Linked DNA regions of Homo sapiens. The protein of the gene in region 3 purifies or fractionates together with the protein of the main gene of each other region. This does not show direct contact. Each region holds a gene or a part of one and is shown on either strand. Other genes may lie near its edges.

Region 1 (3,720 bases), on a different chromosome or scaffold from region 3:
GACCAGGTCCACAGTCTCCACAGTACCTGCTCCCAAGAACTTTCTGTACTTCTGAGGGGACAGATAAAGGGGCCTGGAACAGGGCTGCCAACCGGTCTGCCTGCCCCACCCCCTTTTCCGGTGCCACGCTGAGGTGGGGGCCGACTGGGTCTCTCTACTGACATTGTTCCAGGCATAGTGCTGCAGCCAGGGGCTGGATGCAGGCCTTCAGTGTGAAGAGAGGACCCCTCCCCTTCTGGCCTGGGCTCAGGACTTTTGGCCTTGGTCCTGCTGAGACGCCAAGGTTGGGAGAAGCCCCAGGCCCAGCCTCTCTGAGCCCAGGAGCTAGTGCATTTGAGACTCTCAGCTCTCGAGCCCAGGAGTTGGAGGTCTGCTCTCAAGAGGTAGCGGAAGGAGCCCTGCACGCTGTGCTCACGCCCACCCCTGCCGCGTAGCTGCCTCTGCTTCTGCTACCCATGGGCCAGCATCTGTCGAGGTGCAGTAGCCTGAGAGCCAGCCTTTCTCTGCCATGGACAGAGCCAGGCCAGGGGATCGGGGCTCAGCGGGGGAGCCAGAATCCAGGAGGTGGGGTGAACAGTGGCTTCCTGTCCACCAGCCCCCATGGAAGGAGAGCCCACATCTGCCCATCCACTGCTGGGTGGGCACAGCTTGGGAATCAATGCCTGGCCCCACGGCAGGCACAGCTGCTGCTTCCATCCTGGGCTGGGAGGAAAGGAGCCCAGCCTGTGTGGGGCAGTGGCTGACTTCTGCTTCTCTGCCTGCTCCCTCCTGAGGCCTGGCCCAGTCCCTCGCTAGCCCCCCACAGCACTGGGCCACAGGCAGCCAGGCATCTCCATCCTCAGGCCCATCCCCTTTGGGTGAGAGAAAGGGCCTCGGATGACCAGGACAGGGCGAGCATGAACTCTGCAGTCAGCTGGACCAGGCTAGGAATTCAGGCTCTGCCAGGCATTGGCTGTATGATCTTAGACAAGTCACTTAAACTCAGCCTCAGTTTTCTCATCTGTGAAGTGGGGAGAAGGAGGTCCCTGACAAAGAGGGGTTGCTGGCAGACCTAGGCTTGGGAAGTCACTCTCACAGGCCCTCCTCCCTCTGCCCTCGGACTCCCTCCTGGGGATCCCCCTTGGGACACCCCACCACCACTTCCCTCGGTGCCTGTTAAGTGCTTTGACCCTCCAATATTGGTCACTGGCAAGCAGTGCAGAGACCCCAGCACCTCCCATACCCCAGCCCCAGCCCCCAGCCGCAGCCGCCCACAATGGGGGCTTCTCACAGCTGAAAGGGCTCATTCAGCCACCATGCAGCAGCCCGGACAATCTGGAGAAGAAAATAAACATTTCTTTCCACTGTTGGGATTGGCCACTCGACAGTGCCCCGGGCAGCTCGGGTTTCCTGGGGCTGCGAGGCCGCAGGGTGGGGGTACAGGAGCTCCAAGGAAGCTGCTGGGGGGTCTGAGGGAGTGCTGAGGGCAGGTACTTCCCCCACCACCCCGGAGGAGGGGTGGTGGCCCTGAGGAAAGAGGCTGGAGGGGATGGTGGCAGGTCCAGGGAGGCCCAGCCCAGCGCCCTGCAGCCCGCGTGAGCTCTGAGGGGCACAGTCCTGCCGTTGTATCCTGCGGTCCCCATTTGTTTCCTTCGTCTTGAGAATGGGGTTCCCATCAGGCGGCCAGCACCCACTTCCACCCCACCCATCTCAGCTGTGCTGACGTGCCCAGCACCTGCAACAGGACCTCTCCCCCCGAGGGGCTCCCCAGATGAAAACTGGCAGCCAGGTGCCTCGGAGGCTCTCGGCCTCAAGGGGCCGGGACAGCCAAGTGACCTACTAGGGAACATCCCAGATGTCCCAGAAGGCCCCCGCCACCCAGACTGCTGTCCCCACATCTTCTTACCTTAAGCCAGGAGCATCACTCCGTTCGGATCCACGCCCAGGGCCAGAGTACGCTGCTGAGGGAAACATACCCCAGCTGACTTGGGAAGACCCCAAAGCCCCGAGAAGTTCCAAGTCCCAGCCGAAGTCACACACACCTCAGGCTCATAGCTCTCCGTCCTCAGCCAAGCCTCGGCGTGGCAGGCAGAGCCCACTCCGGCTAGCACCGGCCCTTATCCTTTGGTGGGTGACACAGAGGGGTTGCTGGGCTGGACAGACTGCACCTCTGGACCACTGCTGGGGGCTCATCCACCTCCCCCGGCTGCCAGAGTAGAAGGGAGGCCCTGCACCAGGGCCTCAACTTGGCAGGGCCCTGAATGAGCCAGTTCTCCTGGGTACCCAGAGTAAGAGACACCACAGCCACAGTGGCCTTGCAAAGCCTCATGGACCCCTGCTCTGTGCCCAGTGCCATTCTAAGTACTCGATGTGAATTAACTGAATCCTGATGAACTGTTATCGTCTCATGTTTTATATGGGGAAACTGATGCGCAGAGAGGTTAAGTGACTTGCCCAAGGACACAAAGCTAGTAAGTGTCCAAACCAGGATAACTGTCCGGCTCCAGAAGCCACACAGTAAGCCTTGATCCTGTGCTGCCTCAAAGACGGGACAGCTCCCTCTCAAGTACGTGTTGGGGCTCAGGACCAGAGGCCCTAGGATTGTGTGCCAGGTCCAATGTGCTGTGTGACCCTGAGGGAAGTGCCTCACCCTGTCTGGGCCTCAGTTTCCCCATCAAGGGTGTTAGACTCAATCCCTGAGCCCCTTTGAATGCTGAGGTTTTGGGGGTCTGTGATGACAAAAGTTGGGGACAGAGGATGGAACACCCTTGCCTTGGAGCCCATTGAGAAGCCACATTCCTGGGGGAGCAGGGGCAGAGTCTGGGCTGGACACTGTGACCAGGTTGGGGTCTGGGTCCCCAAGTTTGTCTGACTGCTGTCTCACTTTGCTGCCAAGGCAGGTTAGGGTGGCATCCAGTCACTGTGTGGCCACGAGTCGGCTCCAGAGACACAGGCCCAGGGTGAGGTGGAGGCCAGAGCTCCTGTGAACTCAGTGCCCACAACCCAGGTGTGAGCGCACAGAACCTCCGCGTGCTGCACCTGGGCAGGAGAGGCACGTGTGTCCCCAGCAGAGGCCTTGTGATGAGAACCAGTCCTTTCTCTGCCACAGAGACTCAGTCTTGCTCTCTCTCTGCCTCCATTTTCTTGTCTTCAAAAGCGGGTTCCAACTCCCAGTCTCACACGGTCATTGGAGCCCTTTACACATCCACGGCCTTCCCAGCTGTTAACATGGGCCGGTGGGGAGAGGAACCTGCCTGGGCAGGGCTGCTGGGAGGCCTGAGCTGACTCTGCCCTCAGCCCCACCACCGCATCCTAGGCCTCTCCTCTGCGAGGCTGGGAAGGAGGATTTAAAAAGAAGAATAGACCCCCTCCTCTGTTCTGTTGCTGCTGTGGGGGGGCTCCCATGGCCCCTCTTGGCCCGGGGCACGCTCCAACCAGCTTCCCGGCAGGTCTGTGTTCGGAGTCCTGGCGGGGGAGGCCCCGGGCAGCCTAGGGCAGGAAGAGGAGAGCCAGGTCTAGAACTAGGGGTCCCCCAGATGGGCCTTGGGAACCAGAGCCCAAGGTCATTCTTCAGGAAGCCCTCCTGGGGTTGTCTCGAGCTGGAACTGACCTCTTCCCTGCTGTCCTCCAGGCACCTCGGAACTGAACCCATTCTCCGACCCCCGCCAGTTTGACCGCTCCTTCCCCACGCTGCCAACCCTCACGGAGAGCCGCTTCCCAGACCCCAGGATGCATTATCCC
Region 2 (5,205 bases), on a different chromosome or scaffold from region 3:
GATTGGACCAAGCAGGCAGATTTTGTGCCATGAGGGAGCCCAAAAAAAGCTCATTCAGTTGGAAAAAAAAGGAACCCATTGAGGCCATTTCAAAAGCTGGTGCTGGATAAGCTCATGGGAAGAGGTAAGGCTGAGATTTCAATATCCAGGGCCTGAAACTGGACATTTCTAGATGTTAGGCTTGTTTGGCTTGGATGACTAAGTATTCGTAAAGAAGAAATCGGTAAAAGAGCAGGTCTGGTGAGTGTTTGTTGTCTGTGATTGCTTTTAGAAAACAGAGAAAATCAAAATGATTTAGAAGTTGGTACAAAGGCAGAGAGGTACCATTTTTCCCAGAAAGGAAGGAAAACAAGTGGAGGGCCTTTAAACTCTGAAGATAGCTCTGCTTTGCTAAGAATTGTACAGCAAAGTACAGGCAATTTTTCCATTTTATGCACCCCTTTTGCCGCATTAATACTAATATCAGTGGTTAGCAAAGCAAATATAATAACTGCTCTCCCCAGTGGACCCAGTGATTGAGGCTTCCACTCCTCTGGCCTGCAATCGAACTGTTGGAAGGAGATTTTCCATATTTCTTTCTACCTCCTCACTAGCATTTTGATCAACAGAGCCCCATTCTCCCAGTGGAGAAAAACAAGGCACAGAGTCACGTCTGTGGAGCTACCACTGGCGAATTGGGAGAGAAATTAATTTGGGCCCCTGGGCTTGAAGTAAAAAGGAAATTTCGTTTAGAAGCCCTTCCTGCCTAATGTGGTCCATCTCTGGTGGCTGCTTCTACCCCAGGATTTGGGGGGCAGGGCTCTTTTTACCACCACCAGAGGCCCCAAACACTGAACCCATTATGGCACGTGCTTCCATATGTATTTAAAACGTAAAAATACAAAGCCATAAAAGAAGTGTAAGAAAATCCAACACAGTACCACCCTCCATTGAAATATCAAATATCAAATTCTTTCTAAAAATAAATGTGGGTCCCCCTCCCATATCAGTGCCCTGAGCAAAAGCATTGGCAGTGGAATCTGTAAGTCGGCAGCAACTGGGGGGCACCCCACGTTTATACATACTTGACACTGGGTTCTTTTATCTCAGTTGATGATCAACCCCCTCAGTACAAAGGTTCCCAGGCAGGAGAGCATCTCCCTCTTCGCTGCGGAATTCGCAGGAGAAGGGAAGTAAGATTACTCTCAGATATGGGACTTCTTGGGGGAGGCGGCAAAATCGTTTTTCCTGCTCACATTCTTGGTCCTCTAGAACGGACCAGTGATTTAAATCAGACTTGGAGCTACTCGGGGCTGAGGTGATGCCTGCCCTAAGAGAGGGGTTAAGGGTGGGGGTGGGAGGGTCCCCAAGGGCTGAGACAGCATCTCCCCTTTAGATTCAGGGATCCTGGGGAACACACTGCTTCCCGCTTAGACTAGGCCTCTTGAGGGCTGAGATAACGCTCCGCTAAATCGTGGAGTTTTCTAGAGCCTGGGATACTGTCTCGCTCTCAGATCTGAGGCTCCCTGGGACAGGTGCGCTACCTCGCCTTCAAATTCCAGCCTTTGGGGGCAGGCCTGCTTTTATGTGCCCGATCAAGGGCTCCTGGGGTGGGGCTGGGGGACAAGGACCTTCCCTCCCTCTCAGATTTGGGGCTCACCAGGGCTGAGATGGCGTCTCCCCTCAGACTCTGGGCTCCCTGGGGTAGGGGCAGGGTCCCGCCCTCAGAATCAGCTTCCCAGGACAGGAGCTGTGTGTCTCTGCCTCCCTTCGCGTGGGGCAAGGGGCTGCGGGACCAGCGGCCTCTCTTCTGGCAGGAGGGGGGGTTCCCCGGAGGCCCTGCCCCCTTCGTGACATGCTCGAGGTGTCCGGTGACCGAAACACTCTTAGCTGGGTGCAGGGTGCGGCTCAGGGCGTGGTCACCGGGGGCTACTTAGGGCCGCCGGTGCGGGGGACGACGCAAAGGTTAACTGCGAGCTGCCGGGCACTCAGCGCGGGTCATGGCGTGGATACTGGACTGCCTTTTCGCCTCGGCCTTTGAGCCCCGCCCCCGCCGTGGTGAGTGGGGCCCACCGAGTCGGGGGGCTGGGGTGCTCGGCCGGGGGCGGCCGGCGGCTGCAGCCCCCTCTGGGCGCCCTGGGGCTTGGCTGGTCGCCCCCTTGCCTCCCTTCCTGCTGGCTTTTAGCTAATTGTTCCTGGCTCAAGGGACTGCCCCGTCGAGGCCCCGCATAAATCACCAGCTTTGCCGGGAACCGCGAGCAATCGCGCTAATGGCTCGGCGGTACGCGGGACGAGCGCGTGGGCGGAGTCGCTGGCTCAGCCGCCGGCAGGGACAGCCAGAGCCTTGGGGCCAGACGCGCAGGAGCGGCGTCCCGCAACTCAAGGACCCTCAAGGCCCAAGGATGAATGTCCCTGACAGGGCAAGCCAGGCCCCAGGGACCCTGAAGGAGGCGGGTATTCATTTTGCCTTGAAGTTCGTCCCCTTGTCTCAATCTCAAACACAGAATATCAGCAATGGACCCCCTAGAGTCGTCGAATTTAACCCCTTCATTTAAGAGATGATGACACTGAAGATGGGAAAAGCCTGCCCAAGGTTACCCAACAGGTTGGCAGCATACCTGGGTCAGCTTAGGCTCTGCCAGCTGCCCACTGCCCCAGACTGCCCAGTAGTGGACCCCTGCGGTCTTTAGTCGGGTTCTTTCCTTGGGTACTTGAGATCAATGCTTGGTTTCCCTATTTCTGTGGAATTGAGGACACAAGTGTGCAAAGATCACAGCACCGGCATATGTGGGTCACATTTCACCCCTTTTCGGGAACTGCTTCTACAAAGTACATTTTGACAACTGATTATATTTTCATCCTTAAAGTTTCAGGAGACTGATATTTTCTTTTTGACATACCCCAGGACCCCCACCCACACTGTCCTTCACTCCCCCTTGATAATAAGCCCCACCCCCTTCAGGCTGCCACCTGCCCCCACAGCCACCTGTTTTTTCATAGTCTCCACCTCCAAAATCTATATTGGTGAGAGTGCGTCATTGGGCACCAGCCATAGACCAAACCTGGGGTTGTCTCCTCTTTCCTCTGTCCCTTCACAGGCGGGGGAGGGGAAGCAGGGAAAGGAGGGGCCTCAGCAACTTAATTCAGCAGAGACCTGTTTTTAGTTCTTGCCAGCCCCAACACCCTGCTGAGAACCATCCCAGGAGTTTGACCTCCTGCTGAAAGACTACAGCTTGCTTAGGCAGTTCAAGTACAGCCTCAGGCCAGCAACAAGATCTCTGAGAAGGAAAAAGATCTGCATACACACAGAGTTTAATTTTTTCTTTTGCATATTTTTAAGGTTTATATGATCCTGGTGAATCAAAAATATAAGGGAGTTTTATAAGATGTCTTTTAAGGCCTTACTGCTCTAACAGTATACCCTGAAAAAGGGGGTGGGGGAAACATTTCACAGTTGCTTGGACTAGAAGGTTGTCATGTGACTCCAATGAGATCAAGGACATGAAGGCTCCTTTATGAGTAACCACATAGGAGGGAGTCCATATTACACCAGGAAGCCCATTCCCATCTAAAAACAGCAATGTCTATTAGAATTAGAAGGCTTTTCTTTAAACTGAACCCAAATCTATGTCCTGGGAACTTCCACCTTCTGGCCCTGGCATTGACTTCCATGGTCCTCCTTCCTAGGAAACAGTGTCAGCTCTCCCCATTGTCCCATCCCCTACTCACCCTGTTCTTACCTAGGCCAAACTTCCCCAGTTTCTTCATCTATTTAACATGTGACATAGCTTCAAGGCCCCTACCCATGTCTAGCTGCTTTTCTTTGAACATGCTCCAAGTTATAAATGTCCAGTGACCAGGCCAAAAGAGGCTTTCCAGCTGTGCCCCTATAAATATAGTCCTGGAAAGCTGACTTTCCCTCTTTTAGAAGCCTACACCACACCCAAGGTACACACATACGTAGTCATAAACACACCCATAACATACACATTACCACACCTATGCATGCCCATTTGCAAAGCCACGAACACACACACACACGCTTCACATGCACCACATACTTTCCACACACAACACAATATACTCACATCACCTGTGTATGCACCACTCACAAATCCCATGCACAGCCACACAGTTCACACAAAGACTTTATTCACATTGAATTACTTTCAACGAAAGCTACTCTTTTTCCTTAAGTAAACCCAAGTTCTTTTTGGAGTCTCCATTCTGTATTTGGTGTTTGAACTCAAGTGTAAGACCTTATATTCGCTGCTGCATTTCTAGTCTGGTGGTACCTGTTCCCCAACATACCCCTGCAGCACACCACTGCCTACATCAGCTCTATTACTCAAACAACAGCAGCTGATATATGTGAAGCTCTTCCCAAATGTTGGGCCCTTAGGCTCAATTGCTTACATGTATAATCTCACTTAAGTCACAGGGCATCACTTTGAAATAAATAATCTTTGGGTAGTTTTTTGACTGGGCAACAGCTCATTTCATTGCACTCCCCCTGAGAAATGCTGTACAATGTGAAGGGTAACTTTGTGGGTAACTATTGATATTCTGCAGGGCTATAATTGCTTTGGTGCCTCCCTTTGAATGTCCTTCAGAAGTCTTCAGGAGTCAGAGATGGGGTTGGGGGAGGAAGCTGTCAGCTGACTGGACAGAACTGGGGCAGTATCTAAATGTTCCTTCACCCCCATTCCCCTTGCCCAAGAGATAGCTGGCATGTGACAGCAATTTTTTTTTTGAGGGGCAGGTTTATTTTGTCTTCATTAGAATATCATCACTCTTTTGTTGATGTTTGCTATTTTTTTTTTTGTTCAACTCTTTTTTAAAAAAATTTACTTTAAGTTCTGGGATACATGTGCAGAACGTGCAGGTTTGTTACATAGGTATACATGTGCCACGTTGGTTTGCATCAGAGAGATTTTTCAGGGCGACAACGGGCAATGGGCAACCATAGGAAGGCACTTGGGAGAGGCATCACTGAGGTCTGGGAGGAATGAGGGCCCAGAAAGGCCTTCTTTCCCAGGGAAAGAGACAGCACAATTGACCCACTTGAAATTCTCTCCCCAGTTCACTCTTGGCATTGGATTTGGCCTCAAACAATTGGACTTCTGTAAAGCAGCCAAAGCTCTAAAGCTGAAGGGACCCTGGGGCGCACTTTACATACAAATTTGATCTTTTCTTGGAGATGGGACCGAATCGATTTGCTGAGGC
Region 3 (4,453 bases):
GCAATAAAAGATAAGTGTAGTGGATATTGCTTGCTTGCCCAGTATTCATTCTCCTGCCTCCCAGACTTTCTTTTAGGGAGCCACCACGGCCACCACCGCCCTGTACCAGACAGTAGTGTAGGTGATACTGACTCCATGGCTCAGCTGCAGGAGTGAGGGCTGATTGGTCTAATGGTCCTATCCCCATTTTCGCCACATTTTCTATCTTGGACAGTCAGATGCAGAGCTCCTAGCCTGGAAAGATTGGCACCTTAGACACACAGGCTGGCAGCTGCCCACTCCCTGTGGCCCACCTGGACATTGTTTCAGTGTCATCTTTGCTGTTTTAGAAGCATTCCTTTGTCATGCAGGTAAAGTTTGAAAGCCACAAGAACGTAACTGCCTTTTCTTTTTTTGAGACGGAGTTTCGCTCTTCTCACCCAGCCTGGAGTGCAGTGGCACAATCTCGGCTTACTGCAGCCTCCGCCTCCCAGGGTCAAGCAGTTCTCCTGCCTCAGCCTCCCGAGTAGCTGAGATTACAGGCGCCCACCACCACGCCCAGATAATTTTTTGTATTTTTAGTAGAGACAGGGTTTCACCATGTTGGCCAGGCTGGTCTCGAACTCTTGACCTCAGATGATCCGCCCGCCTCGGCCTCCCAAAGTGCTGGGATTACAGGTTTGAGCTAGTGCGCCTGGCCCATAACTGCCTTTCTTATGGGCTTCTCTTGAAGCAGGAGCCACAGACAGCTAATAATGTTACCTGCCTGGTGTCTGGCTCCTTCTACTCCCCTGACCAAATGCAGGTCATTGCCATCTCTAAACCTGCCATGCTTCTGTAAAATATCTGGTAGGCCACAGGCAGTTGCCGGGAGTTCCATGTGTTAGAGCAAGAGAAAGGTGGCAGATGGACATGTAGCCAGCAGCCCCTGAGTTCTTCACTGTAGACTTGTGAGTTCTTGGGCATAAATCCTCTTCATTCACAGATGATGCTCCTCTGTTTTCCTAGTGCCTTTAACACTGAACATTTCAAACTGCTGCCAGGATCCTCTGTTCTCTCTGCTTTAAACTTGGTTTCCTTGTATCTTCTGCATATGCAAGAACCAGGAACCAGGAAGGCTATCTTTCCCTAAGCCCTTGTTCTGTAGCCACACTGGGATCCAGCATGGGGCACTGTGGGCCGTTGTTTGGCCCCTGTCATAAGTGCCAAGTACTAAGAAAGAACCTGGTCCTTTGCACTAGTAGGGTAAACAGCTGTCCTTCCATGCCAAGGGCTGTTCTTCCTAGTCTGCAGGATCCCCTGAGAGCAGCCCACAGGACCCGGAGCACCTAGTGGTCTTTGAAAGCAAGCCAGGGTCCCACAGGAACAAAGGACAGCTTTCTTTCCTGGTGGCTCTGTGCACCAAGTGTGAACTCCTCTGTATTCACTGTGCCTTTCTGGGGCCTGCTTGCTATCAGTCTCTTTAGAGCTGGCATATATTCCTGTGATTCAAGCTCTACACTAACCAGCTGTGTGCCCAAATAAGTCCCTCGCCTTCTGGGTCTTAACTTTTTCTTTTTACTTATAAAGTAAATAGCCCAGACAAGTTGAGCCAAGAATTGTCTGTCTGCAACTCTTTACCTAAGTGAGGGACCCCAGGGCAGCCAGTGCAGAGGAAAAAGCTCAGACTATCCCCTGAGCACACCAGGGTATACATGCTCCCTGCCCAGAGTACACAGAGCGCTTCCCTGCTTAGCCTCTTCCTGCTCGGAACCCACAGCTTTGCCCAGGCCAGCATTAGCACTTGAAAGGAGGAGATGACTGATGGGAAGGAGGCGTCTGGGGCAGAGCCACTTGCTGACTGGTCCCAGGAAATAAGGACAGTACCTGTACTTCTCCCACATGGGGCTTCTGGGCTGATCAGCAGGCCAGTGTGGTACCTGTGGAGCCGGGAAGCACAGATTATTGTTGAGATGCTCAGTCACAAGCTTGATTTGGCCCACATGGACATAGAGCCTTCCAGATGACTTTTAATTCAAGGTCCAGCATCAATGAACTGTGTTTTACCAGAAAATCCAGGGATGTTTTGAGTACAACTCTTCCTTGAAGCCATTTGGAGAGTGTTTGTACTCAGCAGTACCAAGGCCTGCACAAAGGCAGGGTCTCGATGGGGAGAGAAGGGTGTCTGCAGATAGTCACTGCACTCTAGGCCCCCATTTCAGTCTAAGAAATGGGAAGGAATCTCCATCCAGAGTCCTTTGCTAAACAAGGGAACCAATGCATCTAGGGAAGTCCAGCCTTTGTTCTCCAGTGGCTCTTCCCTGTGTGACCACACCCTCTAGCTGTTAGAAGGGGAAACTGCAGGTGTGGCCTGTTGCCTGTGGCAGGCTTCCACCCTGTTTTCTATAGCAGTGACTGGGAGGTTCTGCCTGAAGATCGGGAGGAGAGGAAGGATCACACCTCTCCTCAGAGAAGTAGGCTCTCTCATGGCCACATCAGCCCCACCAGCCAGCGTGGCGGGGACAGGTTTGGGGCTCTGAAACAGGTAGAGGCCATTGTGCTGGAAGGCTGATGGTAGAAGAGATGTTTCCCTTGGGATTTGCATTCCTCCTGGCTTCCCCTAATCCCTGGTTCCCCTGGAGGAGTCCAGGAGCTGGCAGAGACCATCATGCATTGGTAACCAGGGCAGAACAAGGTCAGAGATCCTGCTCTCCAGCATTTGTCCCATGCTCAGCACCACAAGGGCTCAGTAAATACTGTAAGAGCAGTGGCTGAAAGGGTGGTCACCTTGGGTCACCAGTTCTCTGAAAGAACTCTGGCTCTTTGGTTCTTTTCAAGCAGGAGAGAGTTGACAAAGGCATCGAGACAGATGGCTCCAACCTGAGTGGTGTCAGTGCCAAGTGTGCCTGGGATGACCTGAGCCGGCCCCCCGAGGATGACGAGGACAGCCGGAGCATCTGCATCGGCACACAGCCCCGGCGACTCTCTGGCAAAGGTGGGAGCCATCACTCAGCATTCCACCAGCCTTCCTCCTTCCTTTTCCCCAGGGCCTGGTTTCCAGTCTCTCTAGGATGGGTCTCTAACAAAAACAACCCATTCAATAGTTTATTTCCTGGCATGATTTAAACAGCAAGTGAAGTCTTCCAGCAGGGCGGAATTAAGGGAGCTTTATTGGCCCATTCCTAGTTGTGTTTCCTGTGTGTATTTCAAATGCATCACCAGCAGGCACCGTTGTGTTTTAGATATGCCCTTTGCAATCTGAGGTCATGGAGGTGAGTGGAAGCCTCAGAACAGTTACAGGAAAAGTCCATAGTCCACCCAAGTGCAAGAGAAAAGTGTCGGCCACCCACGGAATTGACACAGGGCCCAGCTCTGGCCTGAAGGCCATGCCAGATCCAAGGATCACTCTGGCCTCGGGCCCTCCCAGGCCTTCAACAAATGAGGCCTGAGTGTGAGGCTGGCTTGCAAATTGCCCACCTCCTGTCATATAGATACAGGGTTAGGGGCTGTGGGCAGGGCCTCTGGACCCACCGTGTTCCGGATGGGGTCTTTGGGAAGGAGGATGTGGCTGTCCTGTTGGAATCTCCCTGTGCTGATCTTGGCTACAGAAACAGTTGTGGTTTTTAGTAGAGGGCGTCCCCAGCTAACTGCAAAGGAGAAGCAGCCACTTACATATACATGTGTTGACAGCTTCTTTGTCTACTTCCTTTCTTCATTCTTCCATCTTTTCTTTTTTTGAAGAATAAGATGTCTACAGCCCTGAATAAAATCCTTACATATATGATAACACTTATAAAAGGTTTTTGTTCGTTCTGTAAAGGACAAACTTAAACTCCTAGTGCAAATATTTGAGCCCTTTCTTTTTTTTTTTCTTTGAAACAGGGGTCTCTGTTGCCCAGGCTGGAGTACAGTGGGTTGATCTTGGCTCACTGCAACCTCTGCTTCCCAGGCTGAAGTGATTCTCCAGCCTCAGCATCCCAAGTAGCTGGGACTACAGGCGTGAGCCACCAACGCCCAGCTAATTTTTGTATTTTTTTGTAGAGTCAGGGCTTCGCTGTGTTGCCCACGCTGGTCTTAAACTCCTGAGCTCAAAACAATCCACCCGCCTCAGCCTCCCGAAGTGCTGGGATTACAGATGTGAGCCACCGCACCCGGCCAAGCCCTTTCTTTCCTTCCTGTTTGTTCTAATGGCATGCCAAGCCTATTGGAGGCTCAAAGAGAGGGTATACAGTTATTGGAATCATTTGGTTGCTTTTGACAAAAGAGGTGATTTAAAGAGGGAGTCATAGTCTTGTCTAAAATTTCAGTCATTACTGGCTATTTTTAAAAATTGTAAAAGTAATCCATTCCACTGTAACAAGTCAAATAGTTAGAAAAGTTAGTAATCATCTCCTTCCCACTCTAAGGCCACTCTTTGAGCAACTAATTTTAATTTGCTTTTTTGTATCTGTTTACAGTTTGCAGAGGTAAATTTAGATCCAAATCTCAATACAGG
Region 4 (4,453 bases), on a different chromosome or scaffold from region 3:
ACCTGAGGCTCCAGAGGCCCAGAGGAGCAAAGTGAGGTGATGGTGGGACTTGGAGTCAGGAGGGCCCTGCCTCAGGTTGCAGTGGGAGTATGAGATGACAGCTGTCCTAGGTCCAGCACTCCCCTGAGGCATGCAGGGCTGGCCCACTGTCCAGTAAATGCAGCCTTCATCTGGAGCAGAGAGGCCTCCCTGCTCCTGGATTTGGGTGGCGCTCTGCTTGAGAAGGACTTGGGGTACTCTCTTTTCCAAACTGCCTGACAGCTCCTGGCAAAATGCCCTGCCCAGCCAGATAGGAATTGAACAAATCACTCCTTTGCTGCCATGCTGGGGGCTGGAATGGGCTTGCCCCTCCACCAGCCCTCCCCTGAGGGGACTCCTCTGACTTCTTGTGGCCTCCAGGGCTCGGTGAAAGACCAGTTGAAGGCTTACGGTGCTCTGACAGAGAGCGTGACCCGAAAGTACACGCGGCAGATCCTGGAGGGCATGTCCTACCTGCACAGCAACATGATTGTTCACCGGGACATTAAGGGTGAGCAGGGCCAGGATACATGGAGTCCCCAGGACCTGGGTTCAAGTCTACCATTGAGTGCCTGCAGGGGCCAATCACTTAACCATTCTGAACTTTCTGAAAAGTGGGACCCCAGTTGTTTCCCTGAGGAACTGGTGAGATTGGTTGAGCAATATGAGAGAATATTGCCAAGTTCCCTCTACATGTGGGCCTTGGAGATGGTCATTTTGTGCGGTAGATCTGAGACTCCCCTTTGCTAAATCCTTTGCCCTTTGCAGTTCATGTCTAATTCAGTGGTAGCCCTGCCCTCTCCAGCAGCTCTCAGTGACCCGGGGGTGGGGAGGATGGGAGAAAATGCAAGAGGGTCCAGGGTTGCAGCCTCTGCCCTTTCATGCCTCAGGAGCCAACATCCTCCGAGACTCTGCTGGGAATGTAAAGCTGGGGGACTTTGGGGCCAGCAAACGCCTGCAGACGATCTGTATGTCGGGGACGGGCATGCGCTCCGTCACTGGCACACCCTACTGGATGAGCCCTGAGGTGATCAGCGGCGAGGGCTATGGAAGGAAAGCAGACGTGTGGTGAGCACTGGGACATGCAGAACCCATTCTTCCACCCAGGCCATAGTGGCCCCCCATTAGAAACACACCCTGGGGACTTTGTGGTGTGGCAGGAGGGAGTGTGCCCAGGGCCCAGGCTGCAGTGTGTGCAAGGGTATTATTGGGTGCAGTAGCACACACACCACATGGGTGGTGCTCAAAGCACACTCCATTAGAGCTGGGAACTTAGGCCATGGAAAACATCCCTCATGTTTGCTAAATCTCTTAAGGAAGCAGGATCCACTCTGAAGGCCTGAAGGCCTGGACCAGTCTCTCAACAGGAGCAGGCTTCTGTCCCTTCTCCTAGCACTCAAGACAGTTTGCACTTGCTCGACATAACCTTGTGTCTATCCTCTGAAATGGCCCCTAAGTCAGGAGAGCTTCTCCCCTTGGAAAGCTATTGTGGTGGGCTGAATAATGGCCCCCCCAAAGATGTCCACTGCCTAATCCCTGGATCTGTAAATGTGATTGTATATAGCAAAGGGCCTTTGCAGATAGGATTAGGTTAAGGGTTTTGAGATGGATGGATTATCCTGGATTAAGGGTCCTTACAGAAGGGTCTCAAGAGGTCAGAGTGGCTAATAGGAGGTGAGACAATGAAAGCAAGAGGTTGGAGTAATACAAGGAGGGGACCATGAGCCACGAAATGCAGGTGGCCTCTAGAACCCAGGAAAGGCAAGGAAACAGGTTCTCCCCTCAGAGCCTCTGACAGGAACCAGCCCTGCCGCCACCTTGACTTTAGCCCTGTGAGACTGATTTTAGACCTCTGACCTTCAGAACTGTAAGATGATACATTTGTGTTGTTTTCCTGCCTCTAAGTTTGTGGTCATTTGTTAAGAGCAGCTATGGGTAGCTAATACAGTTATTGTAGAGTTCTTTCTGTCAAGTCTAAGTGATTCTCTTTTTCCTTATTTCAAGAAGTACCCAGGTGTGTGGTGAGTGTAGGTCCATGAAGCCCACGTGGACAGACATCCAAGCTGAGGTATCCCTCAGCTTGGCCTGTCCTGCACCTCAGCTTGCTGTGAGAAAGGCGCCTCTTTCTGCAGTGGTGGGCAGGACAGCTGGGAGTCCAGGGCTGGCTGAGGGGTGACACGGGGTTCTCTCTTTCCAGGAGCCTGGGCTGCACTGTGGTGGAGATGCTGACAGAGAAACCACCGTGGGCAGAGTATGAAGCTATGGCCGCCATCTTCAAGATTGCCACCCAGCCCACCAATCCTCAGCTGCCCTCCCACATCTCTGAACATGGCCGGGACTTCCTGAGGCGCATTTTTGTGGAGGCTCGCCAGAGACCTTCAGCTGAGGAGCTGCTCACACACCACTTTGCACAGCTCATGTACTGAGCTCTCACGGCCACACAGCTGCCGGTCGCCCTTTGCTGCATGGCAGGGGGCTGCTGCTGGGCTCAGTGAAGTTGCTGCTTCTCCCAGGCAAGGCTGTGGACCATGGAGTGGCAGCCCAGCCAGCGTCGGTCTGTGCCCCTTCCGCCACTGGGGCTCAGAGCCGGGGTGGGGTGGCTGCAGCCTCAGGACTGGGAGCCCCCAGCCTGTCAGATCCAGGAGCTCCAGTGTCCTGAGCTCAGCGTGGAGGGGTAGGGGCTGGGAACAGTGTGCAAGGCAGCCGTGGGCCCCACCCTCGGGGATGTGTCCTGACACTGCAATTGGCACCGAAGCCCAGAGGGTCTGGGGGCACAAGACTGACGCCAGGGTATGAAGAGTGTTATTTTCATTCAAAGTGTTATTTTGTTTTTCCTTCCAATGTCTGGAGACCACCAGGGCATCTCTGGGCTGGATGAGCTCCCACAAGCCTGAGGGAAAGGCCAGCACTCGCTAGCAGTGGCAGGCAGAGGCCCAGGCTGCCGTCCCCTAGAGTCCCAGGTTGGCTCTGCCAGTCCTGTCCTTTACCAAAGATGAATGAAGCAAATGTCATGCTGCCTTATTCAGGGAAGGAGGAGCCTGTCCTGCCTGTGGCCATGACCCTGCCTCTCCCAGGCAGGGGCCCGCGATGTGGAACTGCTGCCACTGAGGGGGGATCCAGTTTTGTCAATGCAGTTGTCTCTGTTTTACAAGTTGGAGTCACTCTTATGCTGTACCCAGTTTCTAAACTGGAGACTGTGTGTGCCCTCTGGGCTCTGAGTACCCCTGCTTTGGGCTTGGGCCTAGGCTGCATTGAAAAGAGCTGAAGGTTGTGGCCTTTGCGCTCCTGGCCCAGCCTTTGTTCCCCACTGGAGCAGAAGGGGAGATGGACGACACGGTCGGGGCATCTGGCCTGGCCAGTGCCCTGATCCCAGAGAGCCCGAGGAGGTGTCTCAGGCTGCCTGAGTCGTGACCTGCTAGGCCAGAGCCCACTCCATCTGGTAGAAGGGAAAGCCCATATGCTACCACCAGCTGTGTCCAAAACCGCCAGCTCTGTTCTTCCTCAGCCAGCCTCGCCCATCCCCTTGAGGTCTCAGCCCCTTTCCCTTGTAGCTCCTCCCCTGGAGGGGGAATGGCAGCAGGGGTTGGGGAAACAGCATCTCCAAGCAGCTTAGAGTTGGCCATATTTACCTCAGCCTGGGCGCTGGTCCTTTCTTCCGGCCCCTCCCCTCCAAAATGTGCCTATTGCTAGAGCTCCTCCCTCTCAACACCCAGTTTCCTTGGGAGTTGTCATTAAAGGAAAAAAAAAAAAAAAAAAGCCAGTGCCCAGGGATGGGCATCTCCAGGGAGCTGGGGATTAGTGCCAGGCAGCCCTGCCAGCCATGCCTACATCCCCATGGGCACAGAACAAGCCAAAGCCTTCGTTGTATGTTGACGATGCACTTTTATGAATGTAGTTTCTATCGCTGTTTTTAGCCTTTTCACATCATGTAATGTGAGGCCTTGTACTTGTTAATTTATATCTCAGATCATATTTGATGGTTTTTATATATATCAATTCTAGACTGTTACAGGTGACGGACGCCTCAAGAGAGAGAAGAGAAAATGAAAGCAGCTGGTTTTGCAGAAGTGTGTGTCGCATGCGCCAGTTGGGCCTGGACCCTCCTGTGTCCATCCCTGTTCCCCCAGGGGCTCTATCAGCCCCTGTACCCCACACTGCCCTCTGAAGACAACACAGGCTCCTGCTTCCACCTCGGCCCTTGCCCAGGGTGGGGCCTGGCCCTCATCTTGACCAAAGCTGCTGTGTGGCAGCTCGGCCTCTCTACGACCCCATCTTGGTGGCTGCACACTCTTCCTGGCCCGCACCCCCATCCCCAGTCCCTGTTCCCCAAGAGGATACAGAGCACGGTGCTGGCTGACTCAACTGTGCGTCCCAGGTTCAGGGTCTTACAGAGCTCCACCCCCTGGGGTCTTACCTCACTGGGAATGTGTTTTGA

Evidence for each region.
Region 1: the proteins of SUFU (region 3) and RUNX3 purify together in Homo sapiens (affinity purification with western blotting, with the first as the bait; one study listed by BioGRID). This does not show direct contact.
Region 2: the proteins of SUFU (region 3) and ARHGAP36 purify together in Homo sapiens (affinity purification with western blotting, with the first as the bait; one study listed by BioGRID). This does not show direct contact.
Region 4: the proteins of SUFU (region 3) and MAP3K3 purify together in Homo sapiens (affinity purification with western blotting; one study listed by BioGRID). This does not show direct contact.

The regions. Positions count from the first base shown.
Region 1 is NC_000001.11:24,902,557-24,906,276, reverse strand, and holds part of RUNX3 (runt-related transcription factor 3), read left to right. Parts: intron 1-3,610; coding exon 3,611-3,720. UniProt on the Homo sapiens protein: Forms the heterodimeric complex core-binding factor (CBF) with CBFB.
Region 2 is NC_000023.11:131,056,408-131,061,612, forward strand, and holds the start of ARHGAP36 (rho GTPase-activating protein 36 isoform 1 precursor), read left to right. Parts: upstream 1-1,938; 5' UTR 1,939-1,979; coding exon of another isoform or gene 1,980-2,037; intron 2,038-5,205. UniProt on the Homo sapiens protein: GTPase activator for the Rho-type GTPases by converting them to an inactive GDP-bound state.
Region 3 is NC_000010.11:102,594,341-102,598,793, forward strand, and holds part of SUFU (suppressor of fused homolog), read left to right. Parts: intron 1-2,796; coding exon of another isoform or gene 2,797-2,799; coding exon 2,800-2,953; intron 2,954-4,453. UniProt on the Homo sapiens protein: Negative regulator in the hedgehog/smoothened signaling pathway. Down-regulates GLI1-mediated transactivation of target genes. Down-regulates GLI2-mediated transactivation of target genes. Part of a corepressor complex that acts on DNA-bound GLI1.
Region 4 is NC_000017.11:63,691,334-63,695,786, forward strand, and holds part of MAP3K3 (mitogen-activated protein kinase kinase kinase 3), read left to right. Parts: intron 1-399; coding exon 400-529; intron 530-908; coding exon 909-1,086; intron 1,087-2,215; coding exon 2,216-2,444; 3' UTR 2,445-4,453. UniProt on the Homo sapiens protein: Component of a protein kinase signal transduction cascade. Mediates activation of the NF-kappa-B, AP1 and DDIT3 transcriptional regulators.